Linked DNA regions of Homo sapiens. The protein of the gene in region 2 interacts with the protein of the main gene of each other region in a pairwise test. Each region holds a gene or a part of one and is shown on either strand. Other genes may lie near its edges.

What was found.
Region 1: the proteins of CSGALNACT2 (region 2) and ARL13B interact in binary tests that used the Homo sapiens proteins (3 or more experiments, as listed by UniProt).
Region 3: the proteins of CSGALNACT2 (region 2) and SSMEM1 interact in binary tests that used the Homo sapiens proteins (3 or more experiments, as listed by UniProt).

The regions. Positions count from the first base shown.
Region 1 is NC_000003.12:94,035,617-94,039,274, reverse strand, and holds part of ARL13B (ADP-ribosylation factor-like protein 13B), read right to left. Parts: intron 2,724-3,658; coding exon 2,521-2,723; intron 1-2,520. UniProt on the Homo sapiens protein: Cilium-specific protein required to control the microtubule-based, ciliary axoneme structure. May act by maintaining the association between IFT subcomplexes A and B. Binds GTP but is not able to hydrolyze fit; the GTPase activity remains unclear.
Region 2 is NC_000010.11:43,151,935-43,155,592, forward strand, and holds part of CSGALNACT2 (chondroitin sulfate N-acetylgalactosaminyltransferase 2), read left to right. Parts: intron 1-2,962; 5' UTR 2,963-3,215; coding exon 3,216-3,658. UniProt on the Homo sapiens protein: Transfers 1,4-N-acetylgalactosamine (GalNAc) from UDP-GalNAc to the non-reducing end of glucuronic acid (GlcUA). Required for addition of the first GalNAc to the core tetrasaccharide linker and for elongation of chondroitin chains.
Region 3 is NC_000007.14:130,210,860-130,214,259, forward strand, and holds part of SSMEM1 (serine-rich single-pass membrane protein 1), read left to right. Parts: intron 1-2,620; coding exon 2,621-2,675; intron 2,676-3,400.

The DNA.
Region 1 (3,658 bases), on a different chromosome or scaffold from region 2:
CCTGCCTCTGCCTCCCAAAGTGCTGGGATTACAGGTGTGAGCCACCGCGCCCAGCCAAATAGTAATTATTCTTATTAATTCTTTTCTTAAGGGCTAAGTCTTCTCTTACAAAACTAGGAAAACATTCCTTCAACTCAACCTATGTTTTTATTTCTGCATAAACATGTTTCTTGTTTAGTATAAAAGAATAAAAGACTAGAATATCTACAGATTGATTCTATAGAAGTATATGACAGAGTAGTAATATAAAATATTTTATCAAGTTGTGTATCATATTTGAACTAGATAATAACTTCCATAATAGTGTTCAGTGGCTATAAAAATAAGTTACCATATGTATCATTCAGATTAAATAAGTATTTCCATATTAGTTACCACTGAACATTTACTATCTCTGTGATTTATAGTAATGTTGTTCCATACATGATGAGTAATGTTATTAAGATGAGCAGCCGGCCGGGTGCGGTGGCTCACGCCTGTAATCCCAGCATTTTGGGAGGCCGAGGCGGGTGGATCACGAGGTCAGGAGTTTGAGACCAGCCTAATCAACATGGTGAAACCCTGTCTCTACTGAAAATACAAAATTAGCCGGGTGTGGTGGTGCATGCCTGTTATCCCCATTACTCGGGAGGCTGAGGCAGGAGAATCGCTTGAACCTGGGAGACGGAGGTTGCAGTGCGCCGAGACTGCGCCATTGCACTCCAGCCTGGGCAACAAGAGCAAAATTCCACCTCAAAAAAAAAAAAAAAAAAAAAAAAAGAGCAGCCAGAGACCAAAAAAAAAAAAAAGAAAGAAACACAAGTATTGTGGATCTTTAACTGGACTGTAAGTATGGTATAGCAATGTAAATGTTCATTACCATAATATTTACTAGCTGTGTTCTAGATGGAAATACATATCCTTTTATTATGAACCTAGGAAGCCAAGATTTGGAGATTTGCAATTTACTACTTCTGTGACTTTGGACCTGGATCTTTTGAGCCTTAGCTTTCCCACAAATGTGAATAAAAATAACCACTTCATAGAGCTGTATCAAGGGTCAGATAAAGTAATATATGTGAGAACACTCTGTGAATTAACTTTCTCATAGGATAGTCATTGTTATTAATTTTATTTATTAGTAAGCAACTTCAGGAATACAGTATTAATATATTATTTTTACTTGGCATGTTTTACTGTTTTTCAAAAACACTAGAAATGACTATCTGAACCAATTAGATTGGATTTAGTGAAGTAAAAAGCTTGTTTTTAATCACCCGTCTCCGAATGTCAATTTGCTTTTAATTATGGAGTATTGGCTCAACAGAAGAGGTCTCCTCAAGAGGAGAGGTCTCAGACCACAACTGGCATGGATAAAGAGAAAGAAAGAAAGGGTAAGGAGTATTGGAAAAGCCTGCCATAACATGATCTAGAATATCATTATGGAAAAGGCAAAAACATTTAAAAAGTTACTAACATTAGATTTCTTTTATCCAACTCAATTTTTTTGTTGCTTCTGTTTTTATTTTCTTAGTGGAGGAAAAGGAGTTTTCACATAATTATGGCCATATATTTAATTTTTATAAATATTATATATAAAAGGTATACTTAACATGCATGATTGGTTGTACTGAGCTTTATATGATAAAAATACATACTAAGAAAAAAACAAATATTCTCACAGGAACTAAAACCTTGTATCAACAGCTGCCAAAATCATTCACTCTAATCTGTCTTTTATATAAAGAGATCCCTAGATGAAAGGCACGCTCATATTATTGAGCACTTGGGGATAGAGAGTCATTTCTATAAATATTTCTTTAAGTCCTATTGATGAATTAAATGAAAAATACCAGTTATCAGAGGATTTCCTTCACGGTATAAGGAAGTACCTCATAATGGGTCACCAAGGGTAGTGAGTTCTTGCTCACTGGGCTACAACTATGTTAAACTACATAAAAGGCCAGATGGAAGGCAACTATGGATCAGATTTTGCTTGAGTTGAATGATTCTCTAGCAGCTCACCTTCTATCCTTGCTGAAACTAAAAAGGTTCCTCAGTCTCAACGTTATTGACATATTAAGCCTGATAATTCTTTGTTGTGGGAGACTGTCCTGTGTGTCATAGGATGTTTAGCTGCATCCCTGGCCTCTACCCAATAGATTCCAAGTAGTACTCCACTCCTTCCCCTAGTGGTGAAAACTAAAAATGTCTCCAGACACTGCCAAATGTTAAAAACTACCCTGTGCATTGAGAACCACTGCACTAAGGTACCCACAAGCAATCAGAGACAAAAATTTAAAACTCTGGAAGACAATGGCTACGTAAGGAGTAAATTTAACTATTATACAACCACCAGAAAAATTAGGAATCTACCACCCAAACTTGTACAGAAAAAGATCCACAGAAATACAAAATTTACCTAGTGTCTTCCTTCACACAGAAAGAAGAAACTGAACAGATAAAACTAACAACTGATTCATAAAATTGTTATGTTTTTGATCCTTCAAATGCACTGTGGTACAAAATTAATCTACTTACCTTTCTTCTCGTAATTTTCGCACTCGTTCAGCTCTTTCTTGTTTCTCTTGTTCCTCAAGAGCACGCTGCTCTGTTGTCTCTTTTTGGATGCGTTCATTTAAGGCATCAAAGTCTCTTGCAATAACATGTAGCAGCCAATAAAGGCCTTTTTTAATGGACTTGTCAATTTTCTTTCCATACCCCGAGATTGCTGAACATGGTTCCTAAAACAGAAATTTATTTGACTAAAAGATTAAAAGGTCTCCACACAAATCTATTCATAAACCATTAAGTATAATTAATGGCAAATCAAAATTAAGCCATTTAAGTTAATAATATGAAGCATCTGCTTATTTAACTTCCAAAACATAGCACTGCAATGATTAACATCAGTATATAGAACTTAAAATATTTTACAGATAACATCTGTACACTATGTAAGATATTATAAAGAAGAGGGTGACAGTGCCACTTATAATATTAGAAGAAAAAATTTAACTACCATAAAAAGACATCTCTATTGATTAAAAATGCCAGGAAGTTTTAATTCCTTATACTACAATATACAGCAGTAAACATCCATAAGATTGACAGCCTAATGTTTTTTGAAACCAAAATAAATTATTAAATCCACTGTTCATCTTCCTTAAGACTGTATGACATCTCTCCTGATATGATTTATCTTTTCTTTTTTTGTTTTTTAGAGGCAGTGTCTCATTCTGTTGGCCAGGCTGGAGTGCAGTGGCTGAATTAGAACTCACTGCAGCCTCAGCCTCCCAGGGTCCAGTGGTCTTCCCACCTCAGCCCCCTCAAGCAGCTGGGACTACAGGAACACACTACCACACCCAGCTAGTTTTTGTATTTTTTGTAGAGCTAGGGTCTCACTATGTTGCCCAGGTTGGTCTCAAACTCCTGGGCTCAAGCAATCTGCCCCCTTCAACCTCCCAAAGTGCTGGGATTACAGGCATGAGCTACCATGCCCAGCAAAATAATTTTTCAAAATTCATTATGAATCTCTCATATGTTTAAATTTTGTATTTACACTTTTCTTTCCCATTTTACAAATTTCATGCCATGATGTGTTGGCTATGTTAAAACGCAAATGTGAAGCTCCTTGAAATCATGGAAAGATAGTTCATGGAAATAACAATGAAATAGA
Region 2 (3,658 bases):
TGTTTCAAGACAACCAAAGAGAGCAAATCTGAGAGTAAATCTGGCCCGTTACTTCATCTTGGTCGTAAAAGGAAGTCAGTTTTTTAAGCAGTTTTAGAGAGTTAGAATTGATGGCTTGTAAGGTTTCTTTCAATCCTGAGATCTTTGGCTTCATATTACATACCTTTAACAGCTTATTTTCCCATCTTCACATTATCCTTTTCTCTCCTCAAAACACTTAACTATCTGCATTTGTGCTTAGAAGGCTTGTTGGGATTAACTCTGGGCTGTGAATGAACCGTATTCATGATACAAACACATTTCATAGAATGATGACAATCAAGATGTAACAACAGAAAAATGTTTTCTATAATATTCTTAATATATTTATATGATAGAACAGCTATAATGTAATCTTCTAGATTATGGCCAAAGAGTTTCTTTCGGGAACTAGGCAAATAAGATTTTAATTGAAATCTTTCATTTTTAATAACCACAGAATTATGCAACTTTTACATTCTGAAGTAATTACAGTATCCTTTCATTTTATTGGAAAATATTCAACTGTAATATTAAGTAGGATATCTCAAAACCTGTATTTCCCTTAAAGGGAAGAGGAAGAAAAATGACCTTAGCTTTTTAACACTGCCACTGATAATTTCCATTCTATTTTATTGAAAAGTAAACCTTCAGTAGTGACCTATTGTCTGAGTTATAGCTCATAGTCTAAAATACATTGTGTATATAAAGAAAACATATGAGGTACCATATTAATAAAAGATAGTGGTAGTTCTGTTACCCAGTTTCACTTCAGTTTTGAGTATAACATGCTTAAGTATGTATATCTTTATTAATTAAAGTATGTATATCTTTATTATACAAGATTATGTCTCCACATTTTCAGTTCTTTTTCCTAATAAATGGGCTAGTAATAGTTAAAACAGATACCGCTAGGTTTATCTTTTAAATAATGAAATTCAAGTGTTTTCTTATGCTAGGGATTATGGTTTTGAGGTATGGTTAAGTCCTGGAAATAATACTAGTTATTTTTTGATTAGATGGTATTTCTTAAAGCCAACTATTTTTTTTCTGTTTTTTTCTACATCACTCAAACAAGATTTATAATCAGTAAGAGAGATGCTGTAATAGTAAAAGACTCCCTTGGCCAGGCGCGGTGGCTAATCCCAGCACTTTGGGAGGCCGAGGCGGGCGGATCACGAGGTCAGGAGATGAGACCACGATGAAACCCCGTCTCTACTAAAAATACAAAAATTAGCCGGGCGTGGTGGCCGGCGCTTGTAGTCCCAGCTACTCGGGAGGCTGAGGCAGGAGAATAGCGCGAACCCAGGAGGCGGAGCTTGCAGCGAGCCAAGATCGCGCCACTGCACTGCAGCCTGGGCGACAGAGCAAGACTCTGTCTCAAAAAAAAAAGGACTCCCTTGTAGTGAGTTAAATTTTTCAAGATACTTGGTTATCATTTCGTTTACTAAAATAATAAATGACTAAGGAGAGTTAAGACCATTATTTGTGGTATATTGGCCATAAGAAGTTTTCTTCTGTCCTATGTTTTATACAGACATGTTACCAAAAAAAAAAAAATACGCATTGCAGCATTTGCCACAGAAAGCATCCAGGTTTTTCTACTCATTAAAAAAGTGGCTAGGACTGATAACCTGTAGTGATCTTCCAGGTTTTGCTGCAGTGAGAAAACCATTACTGTTAAAAACCTGCTGTCATATCACATTATCCTTCTCAACAAGCACTTTGTTACAATGGAAGTTCTCTTTGCAGTGGAGTCCTCCTTGCCTCCCTTGTCCTAAGTTAAACCTCTATTTTTAGAGTTAAGAATCATTAAAGACATGGAAGAGTTCGCACAACTGGTTGTGGCATGAACGATAGCATGTAATTTTATAAATGTATAAATGGTTTTTGAATTTTTTTCTCTGCTGATAAGGATGATTAAATTCTTCATGTTTTTTCTTTATATAGACTCCAAACCTTTCTAGACTTGTAGGAAATCTGTTGATGCATAATACAGTGGAAAGAATTATGTGATCTAATGTGCAAATAATCTACTGGAGGACATTGGATATAAAAATGTTTTCTTAATGTGTTTTTCAGATGTCTGTGAGCTTTTGAAGTTGTTCTTTCCCCCACTTAATTTTAAGTCTCCTAGATTGGCTGAGCTGAGCAGTAGAAATTAATGAGGTAGAATGCTTGAGTTGAATAAACTGGGAGAAAATCTCTCTCTCCAGTAAACCGTTATTACTGTAACAGAAACAGTTTCTATAAACTCAGTTCCCAAATGGTCATAAGCTTTAGTTGGGAAATGGTGCGGTAATTGAAATACTATGTTAATAAAGAGTTATAGGCAATATAATTTTCAAATAATTAGAGAACAGTAGAATATATGTAATACAGACTATGCTGACGTAATTTTAATGTTTCTTTGATTCAAGTTATAGCTGTGTAGACATAATAGTTAAAAGTATTATACATAGTTTATTGTTTTTTAAGGTATTTTAAAAAATTCTCCCAGGCCAGGCTCAGTGGCTCACACCTGTAATCCCAGCACTTTGGGAGGCCAAGACAGGCAGATCACCTGAGGTCAGGACCAGCCTGGCTAACATGGTGAAACCTTGTCTCTACTAAAAATACAAAAATTAGCTGGGAGTGGTAGGCAGATGCCTGTAGTCCCAGCTACTCAGGAAGCTGAGATGGAAGGATCACTTGAACCCAGGAGGCAGAGGTTGCAGTAAGCCAAGATTGTGCCACTGCATTCCAGCCTGGGTGACGGAGTGAGACTCCATCTCAAAAAAAAAAAAAAATTCTCCTAGTATTTACTGAATATTCTAAATTATATTAGTACCTCTCATAGTTCTCTGCATGTAGTAGTCACGTAGCTAAGTTTACTGAAGCCACAAACAAATTTGATATCCTTAAGGGAACAAAATTCTGATTGATTCTGATCTGTGTCTTTCAGAAAAATCACTACCAATATAATGGATTTTATATATCAGATTGCTTTATTCTGGATATCATGGTAACAATACAGAAAGTATACATAATTTCCCATTTCTGCAAGTAGTCATGACTGCTGAAGAAAGAAAAACTTAAAGCTACGGCAGAATTATTTTATGGAAATTCTGATTTTGTTTTTAATTTTTGATAACTTTTTACTAAAGGTATGAACACACAAAGAGCTTATTTTGTTAGGCAAATACACATTAATAAGAATGCCTAGAAGAGGACTGATTCTTCACACCCGGACCCACTGGTTGCTGTTGGGCCTTGCTTTGCTCTGCAGTTTGGTATTATTTATGTACCTCCTGGAATGTGCCCCCCAGACTGATGGAAATGCATCTCTTCCTGGTGTTGTTGGGGAAAATTATGGTAAAGAGTATTATCAAGCCCTCCTACAGGAACAAGAAGAACATTATCAGACCAGGGCAACCAGTCTGAAACGCCAAATTGCCCAACTAAAACAAGAATTACAAGAAATGAGTGAGAAGATGCGGTCACTGCAAGAAAGAAGGAATGTAGGGGCTAATGGCATAGGCTATCAGAGCAACAAAGAGCAAGCACCTAGTGATCTTTTAGAGTTTCTTCATTCCCAAATTGACAAAGCTGAAGTTAGCATAGGGGCCAAACTACCCAGTGAGTATGGGGTCATTCCCTT
Region 3 (3,400 bases), on a different chromosome or scaffold from region 2:
CTGTGGAAATGATATAAGCCTAATAAGTGTTTTTAAATACCTTCTCCTGTCTATTACAAAAGTACACATTATATAGAAAATGTGGAAATTATAGGGCAGAAGACAAAATAAAATAAAAATCACTCCAGATTATGTAGAAATAACCAACTACTGTTAACTTTTAGGTTTATAAACTTCCAATTATTTTGATTTTCTTTACATATATTAAATTTATTTTTTTCCTTTTCTATAACCTAAGTGATACATATTAAATTTAAAATATTTAAGCCTCTTCCAAAAGCATTTTTTATAAAGTGGTATCTTTTTTTTTTTTTTTTTGAGACAGAGTCTCGCTGTCACCCAAGCTGGAGTGCAGTGGTGCAATCTCTGCTCACTGCAAGCTCCGCCTCTCAGGTTCACACCATTCTCCTGCCTCAGCCTCCTGAGTAGCTGGGACTACAGGCACCCACCACCACACCCGGCTAATTTTTTTTGTATTTTAAGTAGAGACAGGGTTTCACCGTGTTAGCCAGGATGGTCTCGATCTCCTGACCTTGTGATCTGCCCGCCTCAGCCTCCCAAAGTGCTGGGATTACAGGCATGAGCCACCGTGTCTGGCCAGAAAGTGGTATCTTAAAAGTGAACTCCGCTTTCAAGATTTTTGGAGAATGATTGCTGTAACCCAGAAAACAAAAAGGCACCTCATTAAAGATGCTTGCCTACCATTGCAGAGATCAGATATTAAGAATGAGCTGAGGATCTTAGATTGCAGTTATAAATACCGAACTATGGCACTTTTCATCCCAAAGAAACTGGACTTCCACATAAACTCATTTTTTTCCTAATTGTAGACAATTTGAAAAAATTAGAAGAGAAAAAGTCCATTTCACCACTTAAAGCCAACCATAGCTATCACTTTTATATGCTCCTTAAAGTCTTTTTTTTCATATTTTAAGCTAATTTGTCGCTCAAGCTGTATATACAAATTTGCATCTTGATGTTTAACCCAGTATGGTAGCACACTTATTTCCTCATGTTATGACATACTTTTATTATAATAATTTTACAACTGTTTATTATATAATTGTACCATAATTTACTTAAACCATTGTCTACTTTTGAATTTTCTATTATCCTAATTATACTGTGATGAATGTTTCTGTGGACAAAGCTTTCTTTCTTCTGAGGGTTATTTCTTGCTGATAGATTCCTGGAGAGAGAATTATATGTCAAAGGTGTTAATGAAAATTTCTAGTTTTTGTTATTTTCTGAAAGAGTTGGTTTATATCTGTGTCTTTTGGCAAAATCACTTTCAGCATTAGAAAGTGGGACACTAATCTGAAAAATGGGACAAATATATTTATGGAGTATTGGGGGGCAGAATATTTGAAATTGAAACTATTCAAAGAAATCCATTTCTTTTGGTTGCTGTATTCACAAATAATATATCATGATTACATTTTGGAGGAAACTTTCGGAGGGATTAAGGAGATATTAAGTTCATGAATTCGGTAAAGATCTTTGTGTATGGTAGATGTCTTCTGTCTTAAAGAACTATCAGTAATGTACCCTGATCAAGTGTCCTTTAAGAACTAAACTAATCTGGGCCAGGCGCGGTGGCTTACATCCGTAATCCCAGCACTTTGGGAGGCTGAGGCAGGTGGATCACCTGAGATCAGGAGTTCGAGACCAGCCTTTTCAACATGGAGAAACCCTGTCTCTACTAAAAATACAAAATTAGCCGGGCGTGGTGGTGCATGTCGGTAATCCCAGCTACTCGGGAGGCTGAGACGGGAGAATCACTTGAACCTGGGAGGCGGAGATTTCAGTGAGCTGAGATCGCACCATTGTACTCTAGCCTGGGCATACAGAGCAAGACTCCGTCTCAAAAAAAAAACAAAAACAAAAACAAAAAAACAAAACAAAAAAACAACAACTAAACTAATCTGAGTACTATCAAATTTTTTAAAAACACTACTTCTCTGTAATGTAAATGGGTACAGGAAAGCTTTATAAGCTATAGCTCCTTGTCAGTGTTATTTTCTCTCAAGTCTGTTCCATTTTGTTTGGTCCAAAACATTTTGGTAGATGCTGCTATCAAAGCATAGTCTTAATGGGAAGTGGAAGTAGGATCACTATAACAGGAACTCAATACATACTGAATTAGCTTATTATTTAACTCAGTAAGTACTTGTTTAAACTGAATGTTTAAAATTAGACATTGTCAGGCCAGGCCCAGTGGCTCATACCTGTAATCCCAGCACTTTCGGAGGCCAAGGTGGGCAGATCACTTGAGGTCAGGAGTTCAAGACCAGCCTGGCCAACATGGTGAAACCCTGTCTCTACTAAAAATACAAAAATTAGCCGGGCGTGGTAGCGGGCACCTGTAATCCCAGCTACTTGGGAGGCCGAGGCAGGAGAATCACTTGAACCCGGAAGATAGAGGTTGCAGTGAGCTGAGATCATGCCACTGCACTCCAGCCTGGGCAACAGAGTGAGACTCTCCAAAAATAAATAAATAAAATAATAAAAAAATAAAACCAGACATTATAAATGGGCCTCAGCAATAGTGTTTTATAACAAGTACATATTATCAAAAAACAACTGAGATCACTCTTACTAACCTATGTTTCTGAAACAGATGTCTGAGGATAAAAAGGATGAAGGCAGTGGGACAAGTACTTCAGTAAGGAAAGGTGAGAACCAGTGCATATTTGGTGTTGGACTATGAGGGGAAGAATATGTGTGGTGTTGCATGCCTGTAGTCCCAGCTACTCAGAAGGCTGAGGCAGGAGGATTGCTTGAGCTAAGCAGTTCAAGACCACAGCTTGAGAACATAGTGAGACCCAGTACCAAAAAAAAAAAAAAAAAAAAAAGAAAAGAAAAGAAAAAGAAAAAAAGAAAAATGAAATAAAGACAAAGAAAGAAATTTGTGCTGAGTGTGGAAAGCAAAAAACAGAGATGAACAGCCAACAGCATTGTAAGACTTTGCACACTAGAGGAGGCCCATTGGGGTTGGGTGAGTTTTTGCTTTGGACTCCCTAGTGCAGAGGGACAGTTTAGCTGCTTAGCAAGAAGCTATGAATTACTGGGAGGTGGAACTCAAGTTCTTTTTTCACTCCTTAGCTCTCTCCCTTCACATTGCTTGCCCTTCCCACATCCTCATGGTTAGTGCTATTACAGGATTATGAACTGTCTATGACATCTTTTTCAATAACCTATAAGCAGTGGTGCACTGGTAAATGTTTAACAACTGGTTCTCCAAAACTCCTGTGTGTACATATGCTTACTAAAAATTTTACTGATATAAAGGTTGCACGTCATCTCAGCACCTCCAGAGGCTGAAGCAGGAGAACTGCTTGAGGCCAGGAGTTCAAGATCAGCCTGGAGAACATAGCAAAACCCTGTCTTTTTAAAAAAG